Linked DNA regions of Homo sapiens. The protein of the gene in region 3 purifies or fractionates together with the protein of the main gene of each other region. This does not show direct contact. Each region holds a gene or a part of one and is shown on either strand. Other genes may lie near its edges. The genes, in order: SERPINB7, SERPINA12, PRSS16, NEFH, ACADSB, DSG1 and ZNG1C.

Region 1 (3,951 bases), on a different chromosome or scaffold from region 3:
TTTACCATTGTGTTACAACTACCTACAGTCTTCAGTACAGTAACATGCTATACAGGTTTGTATTTGGGAGCAATAGGCTATACCATGTAGCCAAGTTGTATAGTAGGCCATACCATCTAGGTTTGCATGAGTACACACTGTAACATTCACACAATGACAAAATCACCTAACCATACATTTCTCAGAAAGAATCCGTGTAGTTAAGTGATGCATGATTGTAATAAGTAGAAGGTTTAAAACTTTGAAGAGCAGACATCAGTCAAATTATATTTTATAACTTATATTTATATAAATGTACATAGCCATTTATATTTTTCTCAAGACATTATGTCATAATCAAATATGACTTCCAATATGTTCTCAGCCTTTACTGGTTAAACTTTCCTCCTTGAACTGTTTCAAAGATTAGCGAGCTGGTCCCATCAACTCCTGACCCCTCATTTTAGGAAAGAAGGATACAAAGGGACCACCTAAGTTCAAGCTGGCCACTGCTCATCTCTCTCTCCATCTTATACTGAGATGATGGACAGTAATGACTTTCATTTGAAACTTTTCATTTTGGGAGCCCTGAGAGACAAACTTCATCTATTTTCTGACATAGGATGAAACAATTATAATGATGTAGTCCAAAGTATAAAGATACATGCTTTTATTTCCTTTCTTATAGTAGTCCAAATAAATAATTCCATGGAGTGGAAGGTCCCTGTTGAACCTCCCTTTCCTAGTAACAAGTGACCAACTCCACTGTTCGCCACTGCTCACCAATGAAGTCGCAGCTGCAATAAAATTGACTAAAAAACTGAGGGAGGATTAAGGATACAGAGTACCCAGTATATTCTCTCTCTGAATTCTTTCTCTCAATTGGGAAGAGATAACTGCCATATTTTTAAAGGTATTGAAAATCCACATTGGCCAAGAGCTTATTCTATTTTCAAGTAGAGATGTTGCAAAGATGCAAGATTCTCAAAATATAGTGAAAGGTTGAAAATTAAAAGACTTATGCTTTCATCATCTTTTCTTTATCATAACATGCATAAATGTTCTTATAGACTGATATGACAGGTCCTTCAGTACCATATGCTCACAGTGACAGTTTATCTAAAGACTAAGAAAGCTCTTCTATAAATCAAATGCTGATGTTCCCAGGCTGTTGAACCAGAATTGTTCAAGGGTCTCTGTCACTCAGTCACTGCAGGTTCTAGTTCAAAATTTTGGATTTTGAATTTTTCCATAGGTGAAAACATGCCATGCATAGTCACTATTGAAATAAAAATCACTTGCAAATAATTAGGTGATAAAAACTACAACTTAATAACAGCAATGACTTCTTGAGCTTTATTGTAAGTATGGACGTTTCTAAACTGAAAAATATTAAGCTTTCCAGTTTTATTATATTATGAATTTAACAAATTTTTCTTTAAACTAAGCCCACTTAATATAAAAATCCCCAAATTAAACACATTTTAAATTTTATAAACCTCCGTAAAATAATTTTGAATTAAAGGAGCAGAGGGGGCAAGTGCTGAAAAGTTCTCTTCTTTTGTCAGAAGCCACCATGGTGAGGTTGATGACAACAATGATGGTGGGATTAGTTAAAAACAGTCAGCTTTGGGGAGGAAGCATTTAATCACTGTTATTCTGTATATACACTGCTATGAGAAAAATCCTCTATCAGACTAATATGGTCAAAATTATGCCTGATACACAAAATATAGTTTTTAAATTTGGTTGGTACAAATGATTTCCTTAACTCAATTTGTATAGTGCCTCCTTTGTGTGAGACAATGTGTAGTTATAAACAATAAGAAAGAAATATAAGGGATAATATCGAATATTAGAGATAGTACAAATTCTAATTATGAGTTTGTATTCTCGATAAGCTGAAAGTTAGGGGAAGCTCCACATGTTGAAAACACTGTAAAACATGGGGTAGGGAGGGAAGGGGAGAAAGAAAGAGTTTTAAGTGTTCATATGGATTTGACCCAGCCATCCCATTACTGGATATATACCCAAAGGATTATAAATCATTCTACTATAAAGACGCATGCACACGTATGTTTATTGCAGCACTATTCACAATAGCAAAGACTTGGAACCAACCCAAATGCCCAGCAATGATAGACTGGATAAAGAAAATGTGGCACATATGCACTATGGAATACTATACAGCCATAAAAAGGATGAGTTCATGTCCTTTGCAGGGACATGGATGAAGCTGGAAACCATCATTCTCAGCAAACTAACACAGGAACAGAAAACCAAGCACTGCATATTCTCACTCTTAAGTGGGAGTTGAACAATGAGAACATATGGACACAGGGAGGGGTACATCATAAACCAGGGCCTGTCAGTGGGTTGGGGAGGCTAGGGAAGGGATAGCATTAGGAGAAATACCTAATGTAGATGATGGGTTGATGGGTGCAGCAAACCACCATGGCATGTGTATACCTATGTAAAAAACCTGCACATTCTACATATGTATCCCAGAACTTAAAGAATAATAAAAATAAATAAATATTTTTTAAAAATGGTGATGACATAGAGTTTTAGAGCCTATTTAAGTAAAACAGTGCTTTTTTGCATAAAATGACATTTCAAGAAATTTAGGAATAATCATTGGTGGGAAATGTTGATAGGTTCCATGATTCCAAAATTACAAAAAATAACAGGAAAATCTGGTAGGTAAAACTTAACAAATATTAAATTAACACATGAATTGATGACCTAATTTGTATTGGCCCAAATGTTAAAATTATAGCTGCCCAGTCACTTCAGAAAGAGGCTTATTCATTCCATAAATCACAAAATAGTCCACAGGTATTTTTATTTTTATTTTTTTTTGAGATGGCGTCTCACTCTGTTGCCCAGGCTGGAGTGCAGTGGTGCTATCTCGGCTCACTGCAAGCTCTACCTCCTGGGTTCACGCCATTCTCCTGCCTCAGCCTCCCGAGTAGCTGGGACTATAGGCGCCCACCACCACAACCAGCTAATTTTTTGTATTTTTAGTAGAGACGGGTTTTCACCGTGTTAGCCAGGATGGTCTCGATCTCCTGACCTCGTGATCTGCCCGCCTTGGCCTCCCAAAGTGCTGAGATTACAGGCCTGAGCCACCGCACCCGGCCAGTCCACAGGTATTCTGAGTTACATCATTGTATAGTGAAGAAGGTGGTCACATTTCACTGACTATATTGAAAACTGTAGAGTTCCGCTGCTGAAATATGCTTTTCATTCAGTGTCAGACTGGGAGAGCTGTGCACTGAGGCATTAATATCCGTGTGTGGACTGACTACCAGACAAGCATGATTTAATTGGAAGCGATATCACCATAGCATTTATGTAAATTGGCACAAATTCCAAAATCCTAGTAAACCTAAGAGAAAATCAAGTTGTGGTAAAGAAAGAAAATGCAATAAAAATTAAAACCAAGTATGCCTGTTGATGTGCATTCAGAGTCATGGGGAGAATCTGCTCTAAGATACTAATGAACTTGGAATGGCAATTAGACACATTTATTGGGAAAGAATATTTTTATTTTTAAAACCTCTTGCAAACTGTTCTCGTAACCTCTGATTCTAATGATTGCTTTCCTTGTGCCCTGTTTACAGTTGCTTCATGTTAACACTGCCTCAGGATATGGAAACTCTTCTAATAGTCAGGTAAAGACAATATGTTCTTTTAGAAAAAGAGAAGGTGAGCCAGGTGCAGGGGCTCAAGCCTGTAATACCAGAACTTTGGAAGGCTGAGGCGGGTGGATGACTGGAGCCCAGGAGTTCAAGACCAGCCTGGGCAACATGGCAAAACCCCATCTCTGCAAAATATACAAAAATTAGTTTATAATCCCAGCTACTTGGGGGGCTATGGTGGGAGGTTAGCTTAAACCCAAGAGATGGAAGTTGGAGAATGTGGAACTATCCTTTCAAAGCAAAGAAACATGCTTTATTCAGATTTCCA
Region 2 (3,500 bases), on a different chromosome or scaffold from region 3:
TGACACCACAGTTGACAACATCATTCTACTCACAACTCACAGCTCTCTTTTACAGCCCGTGTTTGTCCTTGCAGTTTCCTTTGCTCCTCACCCTTTCATACAGACTGCCACTCACCCTTGAAGACTTGGCTCAAATGCTATCTCCTCTATGAAGTCCTCCCTGACCACCGCCCTCCAGTAAGACTCCATCTACTGCGCCCTCACAGTCTTGATGAATCTCCCTCAAAGAGCCAGGCACTTCACTCTATTCCTATGATTTGTTCCCCAGTCTAATTCTCACCATGATATAAGTTTATTATAGAGCCCAGAAGAGGACTTGGCCATGAGGTAAGAGCTCAGACAGCAGAAATAAGAGGGAAGACAAGAGAAGGAAAAAGCTGCGAGGGCTAGGCACCCACTTTACCTGCGTGACAGTAATGTTTTCCATCTGGAGAAAGTGTCCACCTGCAATCCCTTCTCCAAGTGCTTCAGCTTGCCCTCATCAGGAAGGATGAAGATGGCTGTGATATTTTTCTGGTAGGGTATTTCCAGGATGGTGCAAGAGAGCTTATCGTCATAGCCAACTTGGTATATGCCACTACGGAACATCATGGGCACCTTGACTGAACTGTTTTTCTCCAGAAAGAAATCTTCCTCTTTAGTTACATTTGGATCAAACTCATGTTTCCACCTGGCTTAGATTGAAGAAAGACAAACAGACATGTTATCCCAAGGGAAAAAAGGTGACTAAATCCAACTAACCAGTAGTCTCTCTCCACACAGATTCAGGGTGAAAGGGGATATTCCGGGATATCAGGGAAGTCCTTGCCCTCATGCCATGTCCTGGAGATTTCTGATGATATGGGCTCAGGTGCAATTATTAGTTCCCAAAGAAGCCAGGACTAGACTGCCAAATTAAGAGGGGAAAAGAAGACTACCATAAGCTCAGGTTCCCCTAAGCCTGAGAAAGCCCACTGATTATGTCCTAACAGAGGGGACTGCATTACAATTAATGAGGGCTAATTGAGTCTGATGTGAGTAGACTCTTCTTTAGCCATCAATCTGCCTGTGGATTTTGAGAACCCTCAATTTTTTATATTTAGTACCATGTTCCTGACACTCCAGCAGTGATTTTGTCTGGACTGATGGGTGTTGGCCTCTGATTCTCACCTATTTTGGCCAACCTGTTTGTGTACATGTGTTCTGTGTGGTGTTGGGGGATAAAGTTGAAATTGGAAACATTCTTCCATCTTTTTTTTCTGTCTCTCTCCATCAGATCTGGGAAATATATAAAGTCTGATAAGGAGAATTTATATAATACATACATAAGGAGACCCACCAAGTGATCACCATCACCATAATCAACACAATCACCATCTCAGGTGTCTGCTTAAAGTGCTGGAAAGCACACAGTGCTAGGGCCAGGAGAAATGTGTTCCAGTCCTGACTGTCAATGATGGGCTTTGTAACTTGGAGTAAGTCAGTTAATCTCACTCTGATTTTTTTTTCTCATCTAAGTGATGGGAACAAAATGTCATTCCAACCTCTATAACCAATGTTGTGTTAGGATAATCACCAATAATGAAAATGATAGACTTCATAAAGCTCATTTCACATACATTTTCACTTTAAATCTCAATAACTGTATGAGTTATGTATCATGGTAACCATTTTACAGATAGGAAAAGTGAGGTTTTGAGAGATAAATCACATATGAATTCAAGGTCACAGAGTAAACAAGTGGCCAACCCAGGTTTTTAACCCAAGTCTAGTGGTCATCCTATTCTTTCCACACCAACATGCCAAAAGCCTTACCTCGAAAGAAAATATAATTTGCAAGAAGCATCACAGTGCCGGGGTCTATATTCTCGATCAGGTTGTTAATTTTCCCATGGGTTTTTTGACTGATAAAGTCATTGATCTGCTTCTGAGCCATTTCCAAATTCTGAAAGTTGGTAAGGATGGTTTCGGCACTGTAAAAGTTCTTGGCATCTTCCAAAAACTTACGCTGTGGCTGCAGCCTCTGGTCAATGAACAGCGTGTTCCCAATGCTCAGTTTGAGGTCCTGGGTCTTCTGGGTCAGCTCGTGGATGATGTAATGGAAGCCCTCATGAAGATCTTTTTCTGGCATCTTTCTGAAGTTGAACCCCTGCTTGATCTCGTCCAGGGTGCTGTCCTGGGCACCCAGGCACAGCATGGAGAAAGCTGTAGAGATGCTCAAGGGGGATAGGAAGATGTTCCTGCCAGGGTTGTAAAAGGCCAGCTTCTTGAGCAGCTTAAAGCCTAAGTCCATGTTCTGCCTTGCAAGCTCCTTGGCTGCCATCCTTTGCTTCCATCCTTGGACCTCGCTCAAAGCTTTATAATTCCTTGGTGAGAAGCTCGGCTTTAGAAGACCTTTCACCGTGAGGAGAACAGCCAGAAAAATGGCCAGGCCTAGTGTGGGGTTCATTTTCCTTGAAGAATATCCTGTTGAGTAGTAGACCTGAGGTCAGCAGAAAAAAAGAACATGATAACCCCATTGCCTACATGTTACCCAGAGGAAGACCAGATGAAAGAAGAAATACAGTGACTATTATGTGTTGTACATAGCAGTTTATGAGTGCTTTGACCCCTTTATAGCATTTAAACTTTATAATCACCCTGGGGACTAGAAATGACTTCTACACTTTGTAAATAGGAGGACTGAATGTAGAAGACAACTCTTGTTTTTGTACCCTCTTTATGGAAACAGTGTCTCAATTCCTTTGAGGAACAGCTCTCCTTCCCTCCATTGGACCACAGTGAGGATACCCCGTAGTGTAGGCATATGGCCCAGACCTACCATCATAATACTTCATTCCTTTGCCACACTGGCTGGTTAAAGATGAGAGTGTGGACCAAAATCAGACCTCTCAGTGTCTTTCTAAGGGAATGCAAAACCCCCTAAGCTTTGGGGCAGCTAGCTTTGTGAAGTAGCCCTGGAGCTGAATGTGGCCATGGTTTCCACATGTAGAAGGAGAGGAGAGTGATAGAGGGAGGTGGAAAGACAGAAATGGACTGACACATCTGATGACATCTTTGGAGACCCTGGACTAACCTTTAACTCAGTTTGCTACCCACTTCCATGTTTCCAAGTTATGAAAGCCAATAAATTTCCCTTTTAGAGTTGGCTGGTTTGAGGTAAATTTTTCCCCTTCAGCCAAAAGAATTATGACTAATTTACAGAGATCAAGCTCTTTGTTTAAGCTCATATGTTCTCTAGGTGGTGGATACTCATTCCAGGAGGACTTAGATCTCCAGGAAACCTTCTTCCCTACACCCTTCCCAGGGAGGGAAGAGGATGGCACCATGGGAGAGGAACAGCCAGGTCTGCCTGGCTCTGGACTGCTGCTCCTTTCATCCACCTCTCAGCTTTGACATCTTCCAACGGCCACTGTGAGCTTCTGGGAGACAAGACTTTTAGCTACGTTTTCCCTTAATCTCCAGCCCTAATTCTGCAGAGAGATGCTAAAAGCATGTTGGCCTAAAAAGCTTATTGATTT
Region 3 (4,647 bases):
CGGTCGGTCCTCATCGCTGGGAATCCCTGAAGATTTCCCCATTCTGGGGGAAACCCGGATCCAGAGACATGAATGGGTGAATCTGGCCAGAAACCAGGGCCGTTTTCTCATGACGTGTTTCCAAGTGTTCTCCAAGCCACATACACTTCCCAGAACATGTGTGCCTAGGCCAAGGGAGACCCTGTCCTCGTCCACTTTCTAGAAAGCCACCACCCTCTTTCCCTTCTCGTTTTAGGTAGGAGAGGAAAAATTTCCAAGTCAGTTTAGATGAAAACCTGACAAATGTAGGGAAGGGTTGAGGGCACTCAAGGAGGGCTACTAAGAGGAGAAGGAGGGGTCCTAACCTGATGAGTTGCAAGGTATTGGGAGAGAGAACAGACACAAAGAGAAATGGAGAGTGAAGTTTGGATATGTCTAACATCCTCTTTCTCCTCCCAAGGGCTTTCTTTCTTCCCTAACCTTTCTGAATGGCTTGCAGTTGGTACCATCCTGTTGCAGTTAGAAAACCGTTTCGCTTGTAGAAAAGATTAAGATGCAGAGAGACAGAGATGGAGACAAAGAGGCACAGATGTAGATACAGAGACGGAGAAAATGAGACAGGCAAACAGACTGTTACAGACACAGACAGAGATACCAATGAGGAAAGAAAAAGCTAAGTTCTGTAAGAATAAAGCAGATGAAAGAAACAAAAAGCAGGTGAAGTAAAGTTGGAAAAATGGTGGCGGTCGTTAATAGGAGTGAGATGCACTGAAGGAGGCTGGGGTGAGAGGCATAAAAACATCTAGGGGAAGGCCACGCCATGCAGAGGGATGAGTTCAAAGGCTCAAGGCAGGAATGTGCGTGTAAGTCTGGAGGACAGTGAGGACTTCAATGTAGCTGGAGCCCAGTGAAAGTGAGAGAGTATAGGTCAGAGTTAACTAGAGGCCAAAACCCACTGGACTCCATGGCGACTGTAAAAGCTTTGACTTTACTCTGAAGTCAAATACAGTCAAAATTGCTTTACTTCTGAAGCAATACAGAAGATGTCTGAGGGACTTAAGCCAGGGAGGATCATGTCCTGGTTTATGCTCTAACAGAATTACTCTGATTTCCACCTGGAAGTCAAGGGCAGAGCAGGAAAAATGGTGAGAATGCTGTGGCCGTAATCCAGGTAAGGAATGCTGGTGGTCTGCACAGTGATACAGTGGCTTACTTCAGACAGAGACGCAGAAATAGAAAGAACACAGGATAAGAGAAAGACAGATAGGGAGAGTCAGAGACCCAGAAATGGAAAGAGAAAAAACAAGACCCTATGAAACACAGAAGAAAACAGAGGGAACCAGAGACTCAGAGGTTGACTTCAGACAGTGGAGGAGAGAGACACAGATGCAGAGATGCCAAAGCACAGACATTCCTGTCCTTTGACCATAAACACTTTCCCTTCCTCCACTCACGCAAGGCGGCTGGACAAGAAGCGGAGCTGGGCCATTTCCAGGCCTCCAGCAGGTATACTCAGGCCATAAAATCTGTGTTCCAGGCTTATCACCAGGGCGCCCCAGGCTGGGGCCAAGGCTGCGGGATGGCCTGTGAAGAGTGTATGGGTGGGGGGTGGGGAGGTGAGATGCAAGTTGAGTTTAAGCCCTTTCACTCCTCAGGTCTCACAGCATTGCAATATGCAGCTCCCCTTCCTGGTCCCCACCAGCATCCCAACTCCTTTCCCCCAACATTGCCTCTTACCTCTCATCACTGAGCCAGGCCCAAGGCTGCCCTCACCCCCTAGATGCAGGAATATGGGTCCATCCTGGCCAACCCAATGTTGGTCATTCACCCAGTAACGCTGAGAGGTGGGATGGGGAAGAAGAAATGGCACTGTGAGAGTCCTGACTTATTCTCAATTCCTCATTTGTTCCAGTCTCTCTTCCTAATGGATCTTTCCTTATGTACTTAACAGTGTCTGAAATGAGCTTGTTTATTTACTTGCTCACTTTTCCCCTGTTCATCTCCTCATCTAGAATGCAAAATATACAAAAGCAAATTTTTGACCTGGTTTTTCACTCTTATATCCCCAGAACTGAGGGAGTGGCTCTCACATTGAAGGAACTTGCTATTTCTTGAAGTAATAATTGTAAAATAAGAAATAAATGCAGATGGATTTAGGAATAAGATCCAAGTGGGATGATATTTGGAGACTAAATACAGAGGAAGCACTGAAAAATGGCGAATTTGTTCCTTCTTTCGATAGATATCTTTGAGTGCCTGTTGTGAGCTAGGTCTGATTCCAAAGCTGGTTCAAATTTCTGCTACCTACTGAGACCTGGTGGTAGGTTTTGTGTCCAGTCTGGACAGGGACAAGGGGGTAGGGAGGAGCAGTGAATGTGAATGACAGAGAGAAAGAAATGGTGAAGGGCAAGATCTGAGGGACAAAACGAGTGGGACCCCGAGGAGAGGAGAGAGTAAGGCCAAATCTACAAAGGGCAGGAAAAGGGATACTGACAGCAAGCATAACATGAGATTCAAGCAGAGGGATGGGGAGAACTGAGGTGTGGAGAGAGAAAAAAGTGCAGACTGAGGAAGAGATGAGGGAGACTGAGGAGAGGGCAGGATGGTTAGTGGACTCCCCGTCTCCCGGCCTCACCTGTAGGAAGGATCGTCTGTCGGACACGTTGAAGGGGTCCAGCAGTTGCTCCAGCCACCCCACTTTTGGGAGGGCTGCAGCACCTGGCCCCAGGCTCAGGCCCAGGCCCTGGGCAGAGCTCTCCTGAAACTGCTGAATGTGCTCACCCAGGCGCCTAAGAAGGGAGGCTGTGGGACATGGAGGGAAGGAAGTCAGGCTGGCCCCCTTAGGATGCCCTGCTTGACCCTCAGCCTCCTCTTACCTGGAGCCAAGAGTCCCCAGAGGGAAACCAAGAGCAGAGGGCCCAGCCACTGGGCAAGCCAGACGGCCATGGTGTTCGGGACTCTGTTCTCCCCCAGGAGGACCTTTATCTTATCCTCAGCAGCCGGGCCTTAAATCCATCACCTTTCAGCAGAGGCTCAGGTTTCTTTCCTTTCCTGGCAGGTCAAGCGTCTGTAGGAACTGCTAAAGCGGGGCAGGGACGCCAGAGTCTGTACACAGAGGCTGCTGATGCAGCATCGGAACTCCCAGTTTCTTCTCTCTGGGCCTCTCAGTCTGTTCTTCCCTCAGCTCTCAGTAGCCCTCGCTGTCTCAGTCTCCTCCTCTCCGCTCTTCGGTCTACCTTCTCTTTATCTCAGATTCCTCCTTTGCATGCCTTATTGTCCTTCAACCTCTGTCTCTCCCCACCTCAGCACCTCCTCTGGAACCCCAGTTGCCCACTTATTCTCAGTCTTTTCTTTCTGCCCCTCAGCATATCTTCAGTACCCCTCAGTTGTTCCCACACTCAGTCTTTCCGTCTCTTTTTTCTCAGTCCCCCATCTCTTTTTCAGTCTTTCTCTCCATACTCATCTCTTTGTCCCCCAATCTCACCTTGTCTATTTTCCAGCCCCCTCACTTTCTGCTCTGCTTCACTGTCCCGAGCTTCTCTGACCCACAATCTCACACTGTCCATAGACTCCTTACAGTTCTTTGAACATACCAGGCTTGCTTCTGCCTTAGGGTTCTTATTCTTGTTGTTCCCACCCTATGGATTGTGATTTCCCTATATACCCACGTGGTTTGCTCCCTCACTTCAACTGGATCTTTATTCAAAGGTCATTCATTCAGAAAGGTCTTCCATGGTCAGCTTTTTAAAAATTGCCAAACCTATGGCCCTCTTCTATTCCTTTTCAAACTTTATTCCTAATTCTTTTTCATGGGACTTATCACTATGAGAAATATTGTACATTTAAAAAGTTATTCCCATAAATTTAAAAAATATATCCAGAATCTGATGACTTCTCACTACCTTCAGTGCTACCACTGCTGAGCCACCATCATCTCTGACTTGGGATATCATGGAAGGCTTTTAGCTGGTCACCCTGTTTCTGCCTCATGATTTATTCTACACTCAGCAGACAGAGAGACAGAATTAAATATTAGCCCAATCATTCACAATCATTCACTCCCTGGTTTAGAACACTTCCCTGATGCCCCATCTTACTCAAAGTAAATCTAAAGTTTTGAAAACAGTTTTTAAAACTCTGTATGACCTGGCCCCCTGTTGTATATACTGTCATGATTTCATCTCCTACCCCTCCTGGGTTCACTGCTCCAACTGCATTGGACTATTTCATATTTCACAAGACTCACTCCTTCCTTAGAATTTTTGCTCTCCTTAGGATGCTTTTCCTCCAAATATCTGCAAGTCTTATTTTATCACTTCCTATAGTTCCCCATTCATATATTTTATCTTACCAAATGGGTTTTACCTGACCACCCTTATAAATGGCACAACACCTGAGACCCTGTCCCCTGATCCTTCTGTTGTCACTCCCTGATAGTGATGACATTTTATTGCACTTCTCTCCCAAACCATTCCCCAGGAAGTAAGCTTATTCTGGGAAGCAATTTTGTCTGTTTTGTTCACTGGTGTACCCATAACACCCAAACTACTTCAAGGCACTTGAAAGGTTCTCAATGAATATGCAGTGAGCAAAAGGCTATATGGATAAATTGATTAATTAATGAATTAGTTTTCTGCTCAGGAAAGAATTCCCTAAGAATGTGACCTA
Region 4 (3,951 bases), on a different chromosome or scaffold from region 3:
TCTCTGGAGGCTTGCTGTCTTTTTGGTCTGTGCTGGAGGATTTTTCAGCCTTTTCTGCCTTAGGCTTGCTAGGCTCTTTTGAGAGGGTCTTGTCATCTTCCTTGGCTTTGGCCTCTGTCTTGGGTTTCTCCTCAGGCTTCTTGGCCTTCTCCTCCTTGGTGTCTTTTTTCTCCGGTGCTGCCTCCTTCTTCTCTGCTGGTTTGCTGGGTTCCTTGGCCTTGGCATCATCTGGTTCCTTCTTGGCTACCTCTGTCTTTTCTTTGGGTTTAGCGTCTTCCTTCACCTCCACCTTGGCAGGAGCCTCCTTCTCTGGGGTGGGGACTTTTTTCTTATCTTCAGCCTCTTCCTTCTTGGCTTCAACTTTGGATTCTTTGGGCTTTTCGACAGCAGGTTCCTTCTTCTCCTCCACCTTGGGCTTTGGAGCCTCCTTCTTGGGTGCCTCCTCTTTCTTGCTGTCCTTCTTCTCCTCTGTTTTTGGTGTGGCAGGGGCTTTCTCTTCCTCTGCCTTCTTTGGGGGCTCTTTGACTTTCACCTCCTGGGGCTTCTCCTCCTCCTTCACTGGGGACTTCACCTCTTCCTTTTTTGGGATCTCCTTCTCAGGGGCCTTGGCATCCTCCTTCAGGGGAGATTTCGCCTTCTCTGGGGACTTGACCTCCTCCTTGACAGGGCTTTTGGCCTTTTCAGGGAATTTGTCTGCAGGGGACCTTGCTTCCTCCTTCGCTGGAGTCTTGGCTTCTGGAGACTTCACATCAAGAGTCTTGGCCTTCTCTGGGGACTTGGCCTTCTCTGGGGACTTAGCTTCTTCCTTCACTGGGGACTTGGCCTTCTCGGGGGTCTTTGCTTCTTCCTTCACTGGGGACTTGGCCTTCTCAGGGGACTTTGCTTCTTCCTTCACTGGGGACTTGGCCTTCTCAGGGGACTTTGCTTCTTCCTTCACTGGGGACTTGGCCTTCTCAGGGGACTTTGCTTCTGCCTTCACTGGGGACTTGGCCTTCTCAGGGGACTTTGCTTCTGCCTTCACTGGGGACTTGGCCTTCTCAGGGGACTTGGCCTCTTCCTTCTCTGGGGACTTGGCCTTCTCAGGGGACTTTGCTTCCTCCTTCGTTGGAGACTTGGCCTTTTCCGGGGACTTGACCTCAGCTGGAGATTTTGCTTCTTCCTTCACTGGGGACTTGGCCTCAGCCGGTGACTTTGCTTCTTCCTTCACTGGGGACTTGGCCTTCTCTGGAGACTTGGCCTCAGCCGGTGACTTTGCCTCTTCCTTTGCTGGGGACTTGGCCTTCTCGGGGGACTTGACCTCAGCTGGAGATTTTGCTTCCTCCTTCTCTGGGGACTTGGCCTCAGGCGGTGACTTTGCCTCTTCCTTTGCTGGAGACTTGGCCTTCTCAGGGGACTTGACTTCGGCTGGGGATTTTGCTTCCTCCTTCTCTGGGGACTTGGCCTCAGCCGGTGACTTTGCCTCTTCCTTTACTGGTGACTTGGCTTCCTTCTCTGGGGATGCAGCCTCTTCTGCTGGGGGAGACTTTGTTTCTTCTTCTCCCCCTTCTGCCTCCTCTTCTTCACCCCCTTCTTCCTCCTTGCCCTCCTCCTCTTTGGCCTCTTTCTCCTCTTCTTCAGTCACTTCTTCAGTCACTTGGGTCTCCTCTGTCTGTTCCTCCACAATCACAGTTTCTTTCTCAGACTTCTCCACCACTTTGATCTTCTCTTCGCTTTTCACCTTTATGTGAGTGGACACAGAGGGAATTTTGGGGAGTCCTTCTGGAAGCGAGAAAGGAATTGGGCCAAAGCCAATCCGACACTCTTCACCTTCCAGGAGTTTTCTGCAGGATGGATCACGGAACACATTAGTATAAACTCAGGGCAAATTCACTATTTGGGTTCTTCCTAGACTATCCTGAAGGTCACTGACATCGAATGATATGGGTTTTGGTGGAACAGGAATGTGAATGGTGGGCATTATGAGACTAGAGAAAGTCACTTGGCAAATCATTCCAGTGACCACCCAGAATGTGTACCCCGGTGGGACTGGTCTTTTTTTGTTGATGTTGTTGTTTTTGAGAGGGTCTCACTGTGTTGCCCAGGCTGGAACAGCTGGTCTTCTTCAACACAGCTAAGCCTGAAACTTTTGAAATAAAACAACTTTTGCCCCATAAAAAATGGCCCTCAAGAGAAAGCTCCTAAATAAATTTAACAAAAGTTAAATTTATTGTCCCTCAAACTAAAATATTATTCAAGAGAACCCTGGGAGCCTGAGCAAACAATTCCACTTTTTTTTTTCCTTTTTTTGAGACGGAGTCTTGCTCTGTCACCTAGGCTGGAGTCCAGTGGTACAATCTCAGTTCACTGCAACCTCTGCCTCCCAGATTCAAGCAATTCCCCCAGCTTCAAGCAATTCTCCTGTCTCAGCCTACTGAGTAGCTGGGAGTACAGGCGCACGCCACCACGTCCAGTTAATTTTTGTATTTTTAGTAGAGACGGGGGTTTCACCATATTGGTCAGGCTGGTCTCGAACTCCTGACCTCAGCCGATCCACCCGCCTAGGCCTCCCAAAGTGCTGGGATTACAGGTGTGAGCCACCGCACCCGACCACAATTCTACTTTTATAAATTTGGGTTTAAGAGGTCTTAGAACGCTCCCATTTGAATCGCGAGTGTCTCTCATCACCCTGTATTACCATCTTTTGAGTTTCAGGAATAGGGTAGAGGCCGCAGTTTCTCCTCTTGGCTTTGCTCCTCACTAGATGGGTGACCTTGGCCAAGACACACCAACTCTTTGAGCCTCAATTTCCTCACTGGAAAAAGAGGGTCATTAGAGTCCCTACGTCAGAGGGTTGTTTCAGTGAGACAATGAATGGAAAAGACTTGGCAGAATGCTTGTCTCAGAGTAAGTGTGGGGGTTACCCCTCAGACTAGTACTTCCCAAATTTAGCAGCACACAGATGACCGGGGATCTTATCAAAATGCAGATTCTGATTCAGCAGGTCTGGGGAGGGGCTGAGCGTCTGTCTTTTGTTGTTGTTGTGTTGTTGTTATTTTTGAGACAGTGTCTCACTCTGTGATGACAGGCTGGAGTGCAGTGGCACGATCATAGCTCACTGAAGCCTCCAACTCCCAGGCTCAGGTGATCCTCCCACGTCAGCCTCCTGAGTAGCTGAGACTAAAGGCATGTGCCACCATGCCCAGCTATTTTTTTTTTTTTTGTATTTTTTGTAGAGATGGGGTTTTGCCATGCTGCCCAGCTTGGTCTCTGAACTGAAACAATCTGTCTGCCTTGGTCTCCCAAAGTGCTGGGATTACAGGCATGAGTCACTACACCCAACCAAGAGACTATCTTTCTGATAAGCTCTTGAATGATGCCAATTCTGCTGGTTCATGTGCCATGCTTTGAGTAGCAAGATTACAGACGAGAGCCAAGAGGTAGGAAGCCACAGGTCACCAGTCAGAACTGGGACAAGTCCTCAGGGAATCAGTCCTGCTCCCTAGCCCTGCTCCCCCCGGTCTTATTCCTCAGACTGGATTTCTCAAGGCTGCCACTGACTAAGGGTTCCCTCTGTAGCAGCCCAGTGGTACCTGTGCTTCCTGGATTAGCTTGGGAATGGGATTAGCTCATCTTCCTGACAACCCTATGACATGGTTGCCCTTATTATCATCTCCACTTTATATCCCCAAGAAATGAATGCTTGCAGAGCTAAGAAACTCTAAAGGACAGAGTTTGAAAGGTCCCTGACTCAAGCACCTCTTTTCCCTTCAAAGCAGGCCTCTGGCTGGCTGGATCTGGGGAGGGGATAAGGAACTTCCACCGTCTAAATCATTTCAGAATGAAAGTAAGTCACTCTCAAGACTCATTGGCTGGGCACAGTGGCTCACGCCTGTAATCCCAGCACTTTGGGAGGCCGAGGTAGGCGGATCACCTGAGGTCAGGAGTTCGAGACCAGCCTGGCCAACATAGCGA
Region 5 (3,951 bases), on a different chromosome or scaffold from region 3:
TTATAATGTTTACTACTCAACACAGAAATGGCAGTTACTTTGCACATGCAAATATATCTTTGTCTTCCGTTGATCTCTCTCTGGTGCTAGGAAGACTAAGTAACCATAAAGACACTCTCCCTGGCAACCATCAAAGAGTCTTTCTCCTTTCTCTCGGGATCCTCACACACTTGCCCTGTCTTGGGCCTACATTGTCGTTTTTGTTGTTGTTGTTCCTCATGCCACCTTGTCTAAGAAGGCCCACATTATCTTGACTCATTCTCTGTAAGGGCTAGACCAGGTTTTCTGTGTTTTGTAGGATGCTAAGCAGTATCCCTGGCCTCTACTCATAAGAGGCCAATAGCTTGCCTGAGCTATGACAACCCAAAATGTCTCCATCCATGGCCAAATGTCCCGTGGGGGCAAAATTACTGGACTGAGAACCACGGATGTAGACCTGTGTAACAGTGTACTCCATGAAGGAGGGGAAAGGTGGCCTTTCTCCTTATAACCTGGTAGGGAACTTTCTCTCTAAAACTATTTGCCATACTCAGTTTGTTGGCTATAGAAATTGATCTACAGTTTCAAAGATTTTTGTTGAAAGATTTCAATAGCAGCCATTGAGATTTTAAGGTGCTGTTTGCAAAGGAGTTTACAAGATAAAACAGTCAGCAGCTCACAAAAGGAACTCATCACGTGAGACTCTGAAGCCACATCCCACTTAGACCATTTCACAAGTCCACTTTTAGAGTAACAAGGCCCTCAATGAGGGTGATAGCACCGATGATCAGAAAGGAAGACATGTTAATAAAAGAAGACTTGAGAAGATGTGGGAATTATCTTGAAATGGAGGAATTAGATGGACTACACATTTTCTAAATGAAATAGCTTAGTGATAGGCAAAGATTGGGACATCTGGAGAAAAAGTAATTTAGGGTGACAGAAGAAAGGTAATTCTGTTTTAGACACGTTTTAGGTATTAATAAAACTTACAACTGAAAGTGTCTTAGAAGCTGGTCAGAAATGGGTCTAGAAAGTGGACCAGTGCTAAAGCTATGGTAAAAGGAAAACTTCATCTGAATTAAATTTAAAGGAGTTTAATTGAGCAGCAAATTGGGCAGCCCCCAGAACCACAGCAGATTTGGAGAGACTCCAGGGATGCCTTGTGGTCATAACAAATTTATAGACAAATGAAGGGAAGTGACAAATCGGAAGTGAGGTACACAGTGGCTGGATTGGTTACAGATTTGCAATTGTCTTATTTGAACACAGTTAGAACACTCAGCAGTCCATGAGTGGTTGAAGGATGGCTGCTGGGATTGCCCAAGACGCAGCTACTGTTACAGGCGCATACTCCTAAGTTAGGCTTTCAATCTTGTCTACCTATTAAGCTAGGTTACAGTTCATCCACAAGGACTCAAATATAGACATACGGAGTCCTTCTCAGGCAATATTTAGTTTGCTTTAAGAGCTATAAATGCTAGCCAAAACCATAAATGGGTATGGGGCATCGGAAGGATAGTGAAGAAACAGGAGTGGACAAGTCAGCCTTTGGGGTACAGTTCAGACCATCCTGGGTAAATGTTGAGAAGCAAAGAAGCAAAAGGAGACTTAGTAGGATATCAGAGGAAATTCTGTGACATATGTGTTTTATTCAGAATTGGAGCAAAAGAAGGAAAAGGATATTTAAAAGCAAACATACAGAATTTGTGTCACATAAAAAAAACAAACCTGTGAGAGCAGAAGCGGTGTGTTTTGAGAAGTGCAAGACATGGCAGGGCCAGCTAATGGAGCTGGTGGAATGCATACTGAGGAGGTTGTGAACGTGGTTCATGCTCCCTTCACTCAATTTGGTAACCCCCTGTCCCCAGCCAGTGTTGAATATGCAACCCCTGATATGGAACTCTGGTCTTTTGGCATCTATTTAAGTGTTTCTTCTGACTATCTTCCCTGAAAAAGAGGGTGAGTTGAAGAAATTCCCAATGCCTGTTAAGTTGTTGGACCCAAGTAATTATGTGATTAAAAAAAAATTTAAACTCCATAATAGTCCTATCTTTTAAAATTTCTTTGAAAATAGAAGTGAGTGTCTTGTTTCATTTTTGTCCACTGGTAATTTGGGAAAGAGAAATTGTTGACTTGGCTAAGGTCACAATAAAGGCAAGCCCAACTCCTTTACCTTATATTTATTTATTTATTTTTTTGAGACAGAGTTTCATTCTTGTTGCCTAGGCTGGAGTGCAATGCGTGATCTCAGCTCACTGCAACCTCCTCTTCCCGGGTTCAAGTGATTCTCCTGCCTCAGCCTCCCAAGCAGCTGGGATTATAGGCACCTACCACCATGCCCGGCTAATTTTTGTATTTTTAGTAGAGACAGGATTTTACCATCTTGGTCAGGCTGGTCTGGAACTCCTGACCTCACGTGATCCATCCACCTAGGCCTCCCTAAGTGCTGGGATTACAGGTGTGAGCCACCTCACCGGGTGGACACAGTTTCTAATGGCCGGCATTTGCATGTCTAAGCTTGCTGTCCCAGCTTGAAGAGCCGGGCTTTCCTGCTAGACAAGAAACGTTCCTGGAGCTGCTTTAAAAGAAACAAAAACTTCCCAAGGACACCTTTTCCTCTCTATAGGCCTAAAATAATTTTTTAATAACTCCCATAATGAAAGTCGGGGGTGGCTTCCAGGCTATAGGTAAATTTAAACATTTTCTGGTTGACAATTGGTTGAGTTGGGCTAAAAACCTGGGGTGAATAGAAAGGAATGTCTGGGTTGTGATAAGAAGTTGTAGAGACCAAAGTTTAATCATGCAGATGAAGCCTCCAGGTAGCCGACTTCAGAGAGAATGGATTGAAATGCTTCTTATTAGGCCTAAAGTTCTGTGTTGATGTTCATGCTGGTGAGGTATAATGAGGTATGTTCGACCCCCACTTCCCATCATGGCCTGAAACAGTCTCTCAGGTGAAATTTTAAGACCCCTGGCTAGGGAGGAAGTCTGTTCAGCTGGTTTGGGGGGCCTTAGAATCTTATTTTTGGTTTACACATGATTAAAAAATACTTTAGCTCCATAATAATCCTATCTTTTAAAATTTCTTTGAAAATAGAAGTGAGTGTCTGGTTTCATTTTTGTCCACTGGTAATTTGGGAAAGAGAAATTGTTGACTTGGCCAAGGTCACACTACAGGCAAACCCATTTCCTTTGTGTTGATTCCCTTGCCTTGTGTCTTGTCTTGGCTTATTTAACCCTCTTTTGAGGGAATCACTATAATTCTTAAAAGGGCAAGGCATTGTTAGGAACTCCTAAAGACTAGAATGAAGAATCAGAGACTGGTAGATGGGAAAGGTTGCGTTTTTAGCAGTTTTGGAGAATACCTAGAACAGAAGCTATTATTTATGGAGAAAGCAAGCAGAGGTTGGACAGATTCTGGTATAGAAGTTTTGGCTTGGGGATATAAAATTGGGATCAACTTAAAATCTAATCCATTGGTACACTGCTAATAAAGGCATACCCAAGACTGGGTAATTTATAAAGAAAAAGAGATTTAATGGATTCGCAGTTCCACGTGGCTGACGAGGCCCCACAATTGTGGTGAGGAAGGTGAGGGAGGAGCAAAGGCACGTCTTACATAGCAGCAGGCAAGAGAGAAGTGCAGGGGAACTGCCCTTTATAAAACGATCAGATCTTGTGAGACTTATTCACTATCACGAGAACAACACAGGAACAACCCGCCCCCATGATTCAGTTACCTCCCACTGGGTCCCTCCCATGACACATGGGGATTATGGGAGCTACAATTCAAGATGAGATTTGGGTGGGGACACAGCCAAACCATATCAAGCAGGTATGAACAATTTGGCTTAGGAAATCAAAATCAAAACTGAATATAGTGTTAAGTATTTTTTCATTAAATTCTAATAAATTGTTGACACAATTCTCATAAGCCGTATCAATTCCTGTAATTTTAAAGCCCATAAA
Region 6 (3,951 bases), on a different chromosome or scaffold from region 3:
TAAAAACATTTTTTTAGATCCCCTTAAAAAAAAATTCCCCAAAGCTTAAGCATACTACAAGCTGCTGCTTCTTTTTTTTTTGTCCACAGCTCGGCCTATGTAAATCATTTTAACTTCAGAGCTATGTAATAAAGAGCTGGATACGAATGAATATCACCTACTAAAAACAAAACCTGAAAACACAATTCAGTTCCCATCTGCTTACTTGGAAGGTCATTTGCCACTAGTGATGACAACCATGTCAGGCCTCACTTGCTTCAATTCGAGAAGTAAACTTAGTGAGTTTTGCTTTCTTAAGTCAAAACCACAGTGGTAAAGGGAAAGACGAGTGTGATATTCCTCAACCTCACCAGTAAGCAATATTCGTCAAGACTACATCTATCACTAAACACACACTAGAATCAGAAGAATCCTTGACTCCACAGGAGATTTAACTGAGGCCCCACATTAAGGTTCAGGCTCAGGCATTGCTAGTTTACCCTGAAGAAACCTCATCCTATTGCCACTCTCTAATGGAATTTTCCTCCTAGGAAACACTTCCTAATTTGGAATTTATTTTCTCTAGTGCAATAATTAAGGTAGGAGTGCTTGATGGCTTGTGGACTTGACTATGTAGTCAAACTTAAAAAAAATGGTTAACCCTTGTATAAATCTGTGGTTGAATTTTTATTTATGTTATCTGTGAAACCAACAGGGCATCTGGCACACATTTTAGATTTTTCCCATAGATATGAACATATATTGCATATTTAGTTCTTTTTGAATTTTGCTCGAGCTATATGGAAAAGCAAAACAGAGCAAGGAGAATGATGCCAATTGCCATCGTAAGGCCAGTTACATGCTGGAGATGGACTACAGGCCACTCAGGCACAAAGAAGACTCTGCCTCAAGTTTTAGTTCCTTAGTCCTAATATAAGAGAAAAGTTTATGAATGCTAAGGAGAGCTCTCCCCTAGCAGTGGTGTTTCCATTTATTTTTCTCATTGTGATTTCTCACCTTGCTCCTAGATGACCTGAGCACGAAGTTGTGCGTTATAAATCACATTGTTGGTTTTTTAGTGGTGGGAATTGGATCTAAACCACAATGACTATGAAAAAGTGAGCTGGGGTCCTGACTACTTGCTATATTGCACGGTACTATACTTTGTGATTCGACTTCGAGCTGTGCTAGGGGAGGCGGACCCAATGGTTTGGTTAAAGTGATGGTCAGAGGAACTCCTCATGTGGCCAATGCTGGCTGTCCCTCCCAAGCTGCTCAGGCCAATGCCACCACCACTTATGCCAGCTCCACTCAGGGCACCGCTCCCAGCACCCATGCTGGTGCCAACCAGGCCACTGCTGCCTATGCCACCGCTGATCCCAGTGGTGCCACTAATTCCAGTTACGCCAGCACCAGAAACAACCCTCTCTGTCACAATGACATTGTGGGCATTGGCTAACTCGGGGTGCATACTCAGACTACCTATCATGCCGGAAGTTGGTTGGATTACTCTTTCTGTCACTACCACATTTGAAGACTCTCTAGGATGATGGATAGTCAGAGAGGTGGGTAGACTAGAGCTTGGTGCTATTACCCTTTCTGTCACTATAACATTCGACCCATCTCGCAAGTCAGGCATCTCTAACATTCCATGCAAATCAGCGCCAGAGATTGGGCCGACCACTCTCTCTGTCACTACCACGTTTGATGCTGGTCGGTTATCGTGAACGTGCACAGAGGGCTTCAGAGTGTCAGAGGTGGTGTAAGACTCGGTCACAGTGACATTACCATAGCCCAGAGGATCGAGAATAGGCTTAGGATGCAGTACACCAGGTCCCGAGGGATAGGTGCTCTCAGAAATTACTGTGGTAGTGCCGAAATGTGGGGAGATTGGTGGGTGTCCACTAACAACGGGCTCTGTTTCCTGAGGAAGGCAAACTGGTTCAGTGCTTTGTGGTGGCCAAGAAGGATCAAGGTCTGGATATGATTCTTTTCCTAGGCTGATGTCTGCCAACTTCTTAAATTTAGGTCCCAGGGTATCCAAGAAGCTGTCATCCAGGTCTTCTCCAATGAAGCTACAACAACCCACAGAGCCAGCAGGGGAACCTACACCTTCGATGTCATATATGAGCAAACAGTCATTAGATGGGCGTCCTTCATCTTCATCTGCGTAAGCATATGCTTTCTGAATTTATAGGAGAAAGAGAAAATGAAATTATGAATGCATATTTAACAATAATAGAACAGCCTTTATCATTAGTTTTTCTTCCAGAGCATTTCCAAAGAGGAATGAAATAAAACAAGATTTTAACATACTAGAGATGCTCTAAAAATCATTTTATAATTATTTGAAATAATTTGGTTAGAAATCATTTTAAGTATAATTCTAATACTATGATTTTAAAAATTTACTTAGATGGACTTATTTATAATTGTGTACTTTGGACATAAAACCATACACAAAAAAATCACATGAATTGGTTTCGAGGAGGAGCCAAGATGGCCGAATAGGAACAGCTCTGGTCTACAGCTCCCAGCGTGAGCGACGCAGAAGACGGGTGATTTCTGCATTTCCATCTGAGGTACCGGGTTCATCTCACTAGGGAGTGCCAGACAGTGGGTGCAGGTCAGTGGGTGCGTCCACTGTGCGCGAGCCGAAGCAGGGCGAGGCATTGCCTCACTTGGGAAGCGCAAGGGGTCAGGGAGTTCCCTTTCTGAGTCAAAGAAAGGGGTGACGGACGGCACCTGGAAAATCGGGTCACTCCCACCCGAATACTGCGCTTTTCCGACGGGCTTAAAAAACGGCGCACCACGAGATTATATCCTGCACCTGGCTCGGAGGGTCCTACGCCCACGGAGTCTCGCTGATTGCTAGCACAGCAGTCTGAGATCAAACTGCAAAGCGGCAGTGAGGCTGGGGGAGGGGCGCCCGCCATTGCCCAGGCTTGATTAGGTAAACAAAGCAGACAGGAAGCTCGAACTGGGTGGAGCCCACCACAGCTCAAGGAGGCCTGCCTGCCTCTGTAGGCTCCACCTCTGGGGGCAGGGCACAGACAAACAAAAAGACAGCAGTAACCTCTGCAGACTTAAATGTCCCTGTCTGACAGCTTTGAAGAGAGCAGTGGTTCTCCCAGCACGCAGCTGGAGAACTGAGAACGGGCAGACTGCCTCCTCAAGTGGGTCCCTGACCCCTGACCCCCGAGCAGCCTAACTGGGAGGCACCCCCCAGCAGGGGCACACTGACACCTCACACGGCAGGGTACTCCAACAGACCTGCAGCTGAGGGTCCTCTCTGTTAGAAGGAAAACTAACAAACAGAAAGGACATCCACACCAAAAACCCATCTGTACATCACCATCATCAAAGACCAAAAGTAGATAAAACCACAAAGATGGGGAAAAAACAGAACAGAAAAACTGGAAACTCTAAAAAGCAGAGCACCTCTCCTCCTCCAAAGGAACGCAGTTCCTCACCAGCAACGGAACAAAGCTGGATGGAGAATGACTTTGACAAGCTGAGAGAAGAAGGCTTCAGACGATCAAATTACTCTGAGCTATGGGAGGACATTCAAACCAAAGGCAAAGAAGTTGAAAACTTTGAAAAAAATTTAGAAGAATGTATAACAAGAATAACCAATACAGAGAAGTGCTTAAAGGAGCTGATGGAGCTGAAAACCAAGGCTCGAGAACTACGTGAAGAATGCAGAAGCCTCAGGAGCTGATGTGATCAACCGGAAGAAAGGGTATCAGCAATGGAAGATGAAATGAATGAAATGAAGCGAGAAGGGAAGTTTAGAGAAAAAAGAATAAAAAGAAATGAGCAAAGCCTCCAAGAAATATGGGACTATGTGAAAAGACCAAATCTACGTCTGATTGGTGTACCTAAAAGTGATGGGGAGAATGGAACCAAGTTGGAAAACACTCTGTAGGATATTATCCAGGAGAACTTCCCCAATCTAGCAAGGCAGGCCAA
Region 7 (4,486 bases), on a different chromosome or scaffold from region 3:
AACCTTCCCTAAAATTGACACACAATCTTTTATTTATAGTGACCTTTTATTTCAACATTAACGAGACGCAACTTCAGGCTGACTATATGGCTACTTATAGTATGCTTTAAACAATCTATAAAAGTTTTTATGAAATGGGGAATAGAGCCAGGTAGTGTCAACAATGAACAGAATGTTCAGTTAAGATAAATTCATAAAGCTATACCAACTTTATCCAGCAGGTGGCATATGAAACCCAATATGTCAATCTCCAGTAGAAAAAAAAGTCTTGTGAACCGTACACACTAAAATTCATAGAGGAAAAAAAGAAAATCCTAACTGCATAGTATTGTAGTTCAATTGTATGACTATATCATTTCTTTATCTTTTTTTTTGTTGGACATTTGGTTTGTTTCCAGTGTTTTACTATTACAGTGCTGCTAAAAACTTTTACATGTAGGCTATACATGTCTTCTGAAATAAAGTTTTCTAGTATATAACTAGATCTTCCTACAACTAGGAAGATTTTACGGAGTATTAGGGTATTAATATCTTTTAGGTCATATTCCTTTCAAAGCTTTTTAAGAGATGAAGGCTTATATTTAGAGTACTTTAGGAAGCTCAACATCACAAAAATATGAAGTATAGTATGGAAGAGAGAGACTTAGGGCAATGAGGAAGATCTTAAAACCAGTCCAAGCCTGAGACAGAGGCCCTGAACATGAGTGTTTCACAGGGCAGTGATGTGAAAACTGAAAGGAAAGGGTGAATGTAAGAAATCTTCTAAGAGAAGATTTACTAGGGCTTTTTAACCATATTATGAAAAAAAAAAACACTTTAAGACATAGTTCATTCATTCAAAGGTTTCTAATACGTTACAGATTTATGCTGGGCCTTGGTGAAAAAGTGAACAAGATAGTCTCTGCCTTCATAGAGCTTAGAAATATTAAGGGAAGGGGGGAATGGAGGGGAATTCAGTGAATAAGGAGGCAATTATGTCACAGGGTGACATATTCAATAGGAGATGCACAAAATGCTATGGAGAACCTAAGAGGGACATCTAGCCAGAGGAGTCACAGTAAAAAAGTACCTATTCCAAGGGGCTAAAACACTTGGCACCTTTGAAGTAACCTTAGTTTATTGTGCGGGGCCAATTTGGCAGGCTGGAAAGGTTGGCAAGATCCAGATCCTACAGGTCCTTGTAATTCATGTTAAGGAATTTGAATTTTAACCCATAGGGACGCCACTGAAAGGTGTGACGCAGTCGGATTGACATTTATAAAGATCATTAAGGCTAACATGCAACGAATAAATTAAAGGGCAGCAAGACTCCAGATTAGTCAGGAGGCTTTTAGAGTATTCCAAATGGTTGGGATCACAGAAGCAGGATTTGGGGGGATGGTAACAGACGAAGTTTCAGACATGTTAAGTTTTAAGTTGTAGGACATCAAAATAGAAATTACACAGGTGTGTAGCTAAAGATGGACAAAGGGGGAAGGAGGAGGGAGCCTTAAAAAGAAGCCAGAGAAGCAGGTGGAAAAATCAGAAGAAAAATGTAATAGAAGCCAAAGGAACAGTGTTTCAAAAAGGGAAAATGGTCAGGGATAGGAGTGAAACTATCCCTAGATTCAGCAACAAGGTTGCTGGTATTAATTCTCACTCCTGAGCTTCAGATCATTTTCTCCAATGATCTACTGACCTACCAGTGAGCAACACGGGAAAGGCCCGAGGGGCACGTTTGAAATACATTGTTTTGGACAAGAAATTTGTTCATCTTCTCAGTAGAGCAGCCTCTGAATAACTGTGGGGAAACGCCAAAAATAAATTCCTTTATAAAATTACTTCCGAGCAAAAAACGGGAATAAACTTACAGTCTACAAAGTTTTTAAAAAAACAAAAGCAGTTATTTCTTATTTTTACATAAAAGGTCACGAAGTGGCCCAAGTCTGTACCTGTCTCTAGCAACAACTAGGAATATTATTTCCCGGAAACAGTATTATTTTATTTACATTTCTTAACTTTTTCCAAACTTCTAATACAGTCATATATTTGTTCTAGCCCTTCTATTTAACTGTAAGGTTTAAAAATATATTTCTCAAACTTTTCCAGTAAGAAACTTCTAGTGTAAGTGCATAAACCGCCCTTCACGAAACTACCAAGTTCACAAACTTGTGGTTTCGAGTATCCCTGTACACTCTAAACGTTCTTAGTTTGAGAAATAGTCTTGGAGGACAGAGATTTTATTCTTACTTCCTACGCAGTGGTTTACAAACAGACCTCAAAAGAAAAGTGTTTAAGATAGGAGCACTTCCTGCCAACTGGCTGGAGGACTTTGGCTCCTGGGGAAGGGGAATCTGCTGACGAAAGCCCCACGTGTCGGGCATTTTACAGACGGGACATCCTTTAATGGCAATAGGTAGGTTGTTCCGGCCCTATTTCACAGGTGACAGGTATTTTTCCATTTTCAGGTGAGGTAGATGAGCGTCAGGAAGGTAAGATAACTTGGTAAGAGGTCACAGAGACAATTAGGGGGGCGTGTCTTAGCTTCAAAGCCTTGTTTCAAAGGCTAACTTTCCATCTCACTTGAGAAATGGGAATCTAACGCAGAGGGGACCGGGCATCATTAACTCCCAAGATGAGAGGTAACCCATACGAGAAGCAAGTGACCCAGCCCCTACCTCAAAGACATTTGCTCTTGATCATGAGGCCCCAATGCCTCAGGAGAAGAGGCACCGGCAGCCCGCAAAATCCCATGACACCAGAGTTCACGGCATTTTGTGACTGGGATGGTTAGTTACCTAAATACCCGGTGATAATTGTGACTGGGATCTTGGCGCCGAGGCCAGACTTTTCCTCCTCCTCGCTTTGCGTCGTCTCAATGGGAACCAATTCAGGACAATCCTCCTCCGCAGGATCCTCTTCCTCATCCACAGATCCAACAGCCGGTAACATTCCGGCCTACAGCACGTCCCTACCTCAGCTGAACCGCTGGGACCAACACGCCGTACCGCAGCCGCGCACGCCCAGCACGCCACTCCCGGCCTGGCCGGGGCCTGACGTCATCACATCGCGACGCTAGCTGATCCCGCCCGGATTACCTGGGCTCTGGACGAGAACTGCCTCGTCCCTTAGCCACACCCCCCGGGGAGGTGGGCTCTCCCCGACGACAGCTGGACACGCCCCTGGGCGTGTTCTGTGAACCTGAGCGACGCTGCGGAGAGTCCTTAGGGCGCACTAACCACCTGTCTGAAGGTGTCACTGGCGCCTAGAGCCTTAATAAGCTACTGGCTGTAGGTAGAGCTGAGGCCAGCCTGCTGGAAATCTGGAGTGGGTAGCCTGACCTAACCAGTTCCCACAGGGCATAGATTTTATCAACTTGATTTTTTAGTCTCGTTAAAAAAAAAAGTTTTAATTCATAGGGGAAAGAATGGAAGGTTATAACATTACAATTTTAATTGTAATTTTTATACCTGAAGGATAACCAGTGACAATTTTTTCTTTTTTTATTATTACATATTATATATGTAATTCCAAATTTTTAGTATTCATGCATCACTTTTATTTACTTTTTTCTCATTATTTATTTGGACCTCAGGTAACCTAAGTTCATTAATCATATTTGCTGGTGCATGACACTCTCATCACTAATCCATAGATAGCCCTTCTTTCTAATATAAATTTATAGTGAACTCCTTTGACCTCATTCCTAACATAAAAGCATTACCAGTAAGCTACACGTACCTATGTGCACCGCCCCCGCTTCCAATCCACAGCCTGCCCCATAAGATAGTAACAACAGTCATGAATTGGTTCTGGATTGCTGATCCTTCCCTGTTTTCTTTTTAGTTTTATCACATATCCCACGTATGTACTTAGAGAATATGTTGTTTAATTTTGGGTGTTTTTGAGCTTCATAAAATTATCCATATAATATATAAACTCCTGAGGCTTGCTATATTTTTCAGCATCACTGCTGTCTTGTATTCTATTGTGTGGCTACACGGCAATTTATTCATTTCCTCTCAATTGTTCCAGGTTTTGCTCTTATGAACAGGGCTGCTATGAACATTTTTCCTGACATATGTGTGTGCAACTTCCTCTTGAGTGTCTAAGAGTTGAATTGCTGGGTCCTAGATTATTCAAATGTTTTACTTCACAAGAAAATGCACAATTATTTTTCAAAATGTTTGTACAAATTGATACATTTTCCCAGCAAATTATAAGAGATCTCATTGGTCTGTATGTCAATATTATCAGGCATGCATTTTTCACCAATCAATTGAGTACAAAAGAAGACTTCATTGTGATCTTCATTTGCATTTCCTTGATTACTAACAAGGTTGAGAATCTTTTCATGTGTTTTGGCAATATGTAATTCTTAGAATGACCCTGTAGAGTGTTATCCCTCTTTCAAACATGAGGCACCAAGAGTTAAGTTACTTGTCCAGGTTAGGTCATAAAAATCTATCTGATGCACAAGTAGAATGTTTTACTACTATCCTGATGC

The links.
Region 1: the proteins of PRSS16 (region 3) and SERPINB7 purify together in Homo sapiens (affinity purification with mass spectrometry; one large-scale study listed by BioGRID and IntAct). This does not show direct contact.
Region 2: the proteins of PRSS16 (region 3) and SERPINA12 purify together in Homo sapiens (affinity purification with mass spectrometry; one large-scale study listed by BioGRID and IntAct). This does not show direct contact.
Region 4: the proteins of PRSS16 (region 3) and NEFH purify together in Homo sapiens (affinity purification with mass spectrometry; one large-scale study listed by BioGRID and IntAct). This does not show direct contact.
Region 5: the proteins of PRSS16 (region 3) and ACADSB fractionate together in Homo sapiens (co-fractionation; one large-scale study listed by BioGRID). This does not show direct contact.
Region 6: the proteins of PRSS16 (region 3) and DSG1 purify together in Homo sapiens (affinity purification with mass spectrometry; one large-scale study listed by BioGRID and IntAct). This does not show direct contact.
Region 7: the proteins of PRSS16 (region 3) and ZNG1C purify together in Homo sapiens (affinity purification with mass spectrometry; one large-scale study listed by BioGRID and IntAct). This does not show direct contact.

The regions. Positions count from the first base shown.
Region 1 is NC_000018.10:63,788,788-63,792,738, forward strand, and holds part of SERPINB7 (serpin B7), read left to right. Parts: intron 1-3,605; coding exon 3,606-3,656; intron 3,657-3,951. UniProt on the Homo sapiens protein: Might function as an inhibitor of Lys-specific proteases. Might influence the maturation of megakaryocytes via its action as a serpin.
Region 2 is NC_000014.9:94,495,970-94,499,469, forward strand, and holds part of SERPINA12 (serpin A12 precursor), read right to left. Parts: intron 2,462-3,500; 5' UTR 2,429-2,461; coding exon 1,795-2,428; intron 675-1,794; coding exon 404-674; intron 1-403. UniProt on the Homo sapiens protein: Adipokine that modulates insulin action by specifically inhibiting its target protease KLK7 in white adipose tissues.
Region 3 is NC_000006.12:27,246,016-27,250,662, reverse strand, and holds the start of PRSS16 (thymus-specific serine protease), read right to left. Parts: upstream 2,963-4,647; 5' UTR 2,926-2,962; coding exon 2,856-2,925; intron 2,782-2,855; coding exon 2,615-2,781; intron 1,817-2,614; coding exon 1,717-1,816; intron 1,564-1,716; coding exon 1,434-1,563; intron 1-1,433. UniProt on the Homo sapiens protein: Protease that may play a role in T-cell development.
Region 4 is NC_000022.11:29,486,718-29,490,668, reverse strand, and holds part of NEFH (neurofilament heavy polypeptide), read right to left. Parts: intron 1,821-3,951; coding exon 1-1,820. UniProt on the Homo sapiens protein: Neurofilaments usually contain three intermediate filament proteins: NEFL, NEFM, and NEFH which are involved in the maintenance of neuronal caliber. NEFH has an important function in mature axons that is not subserved by the two smaller NF proteins.
Region 5 is NC_000010.11:123,015,156-123,019,106, forward strand, and holds part of ACADSB (short/branched chain specific acyl-CoA dehydrogenase, mitochondrial isoform 1 precursor), read left to right. Parts: intron 1-3,951. UniProt on the Homo sapiens protein: Short and branched chain specific acyl-CoA dehydrogenase that catalyzes the removal of one hydrogen from C-2 and C-3 of the fatty acyl-CoA thioester, resulting in the formation of trans-2-enoyl-CoA.
Region 6 is NC_000018.10:31,352,510-31,356,460, reverse strand, and holds part of DSG1 (desmoglein-1 preproprotein), read right to left. Parts: intron 2,562-3,951; exon of another isoform or gene 2,525-2,561; intron 2,165-2,524; coding exon 1,115-2,164; 3' UTR 1-1,114. UniProt on the Homo sapiens protein: Component of intercellular desmosome junctions. Involved in the interaction of plaque proteins and intermediate filaments mediating cell-cell adhesion.
Region 7 is NC_000009.12:68,240,477-68,244,962, reverse strand, and holds the start of ZNG1C (zinc-regulated GTPase metalloprotein activator 1C), read right to left. Parts: upstream 2,981-4,486; 5' UTR 2,932-2,980; coding exon 2,778-2,931; intron 1-2,777.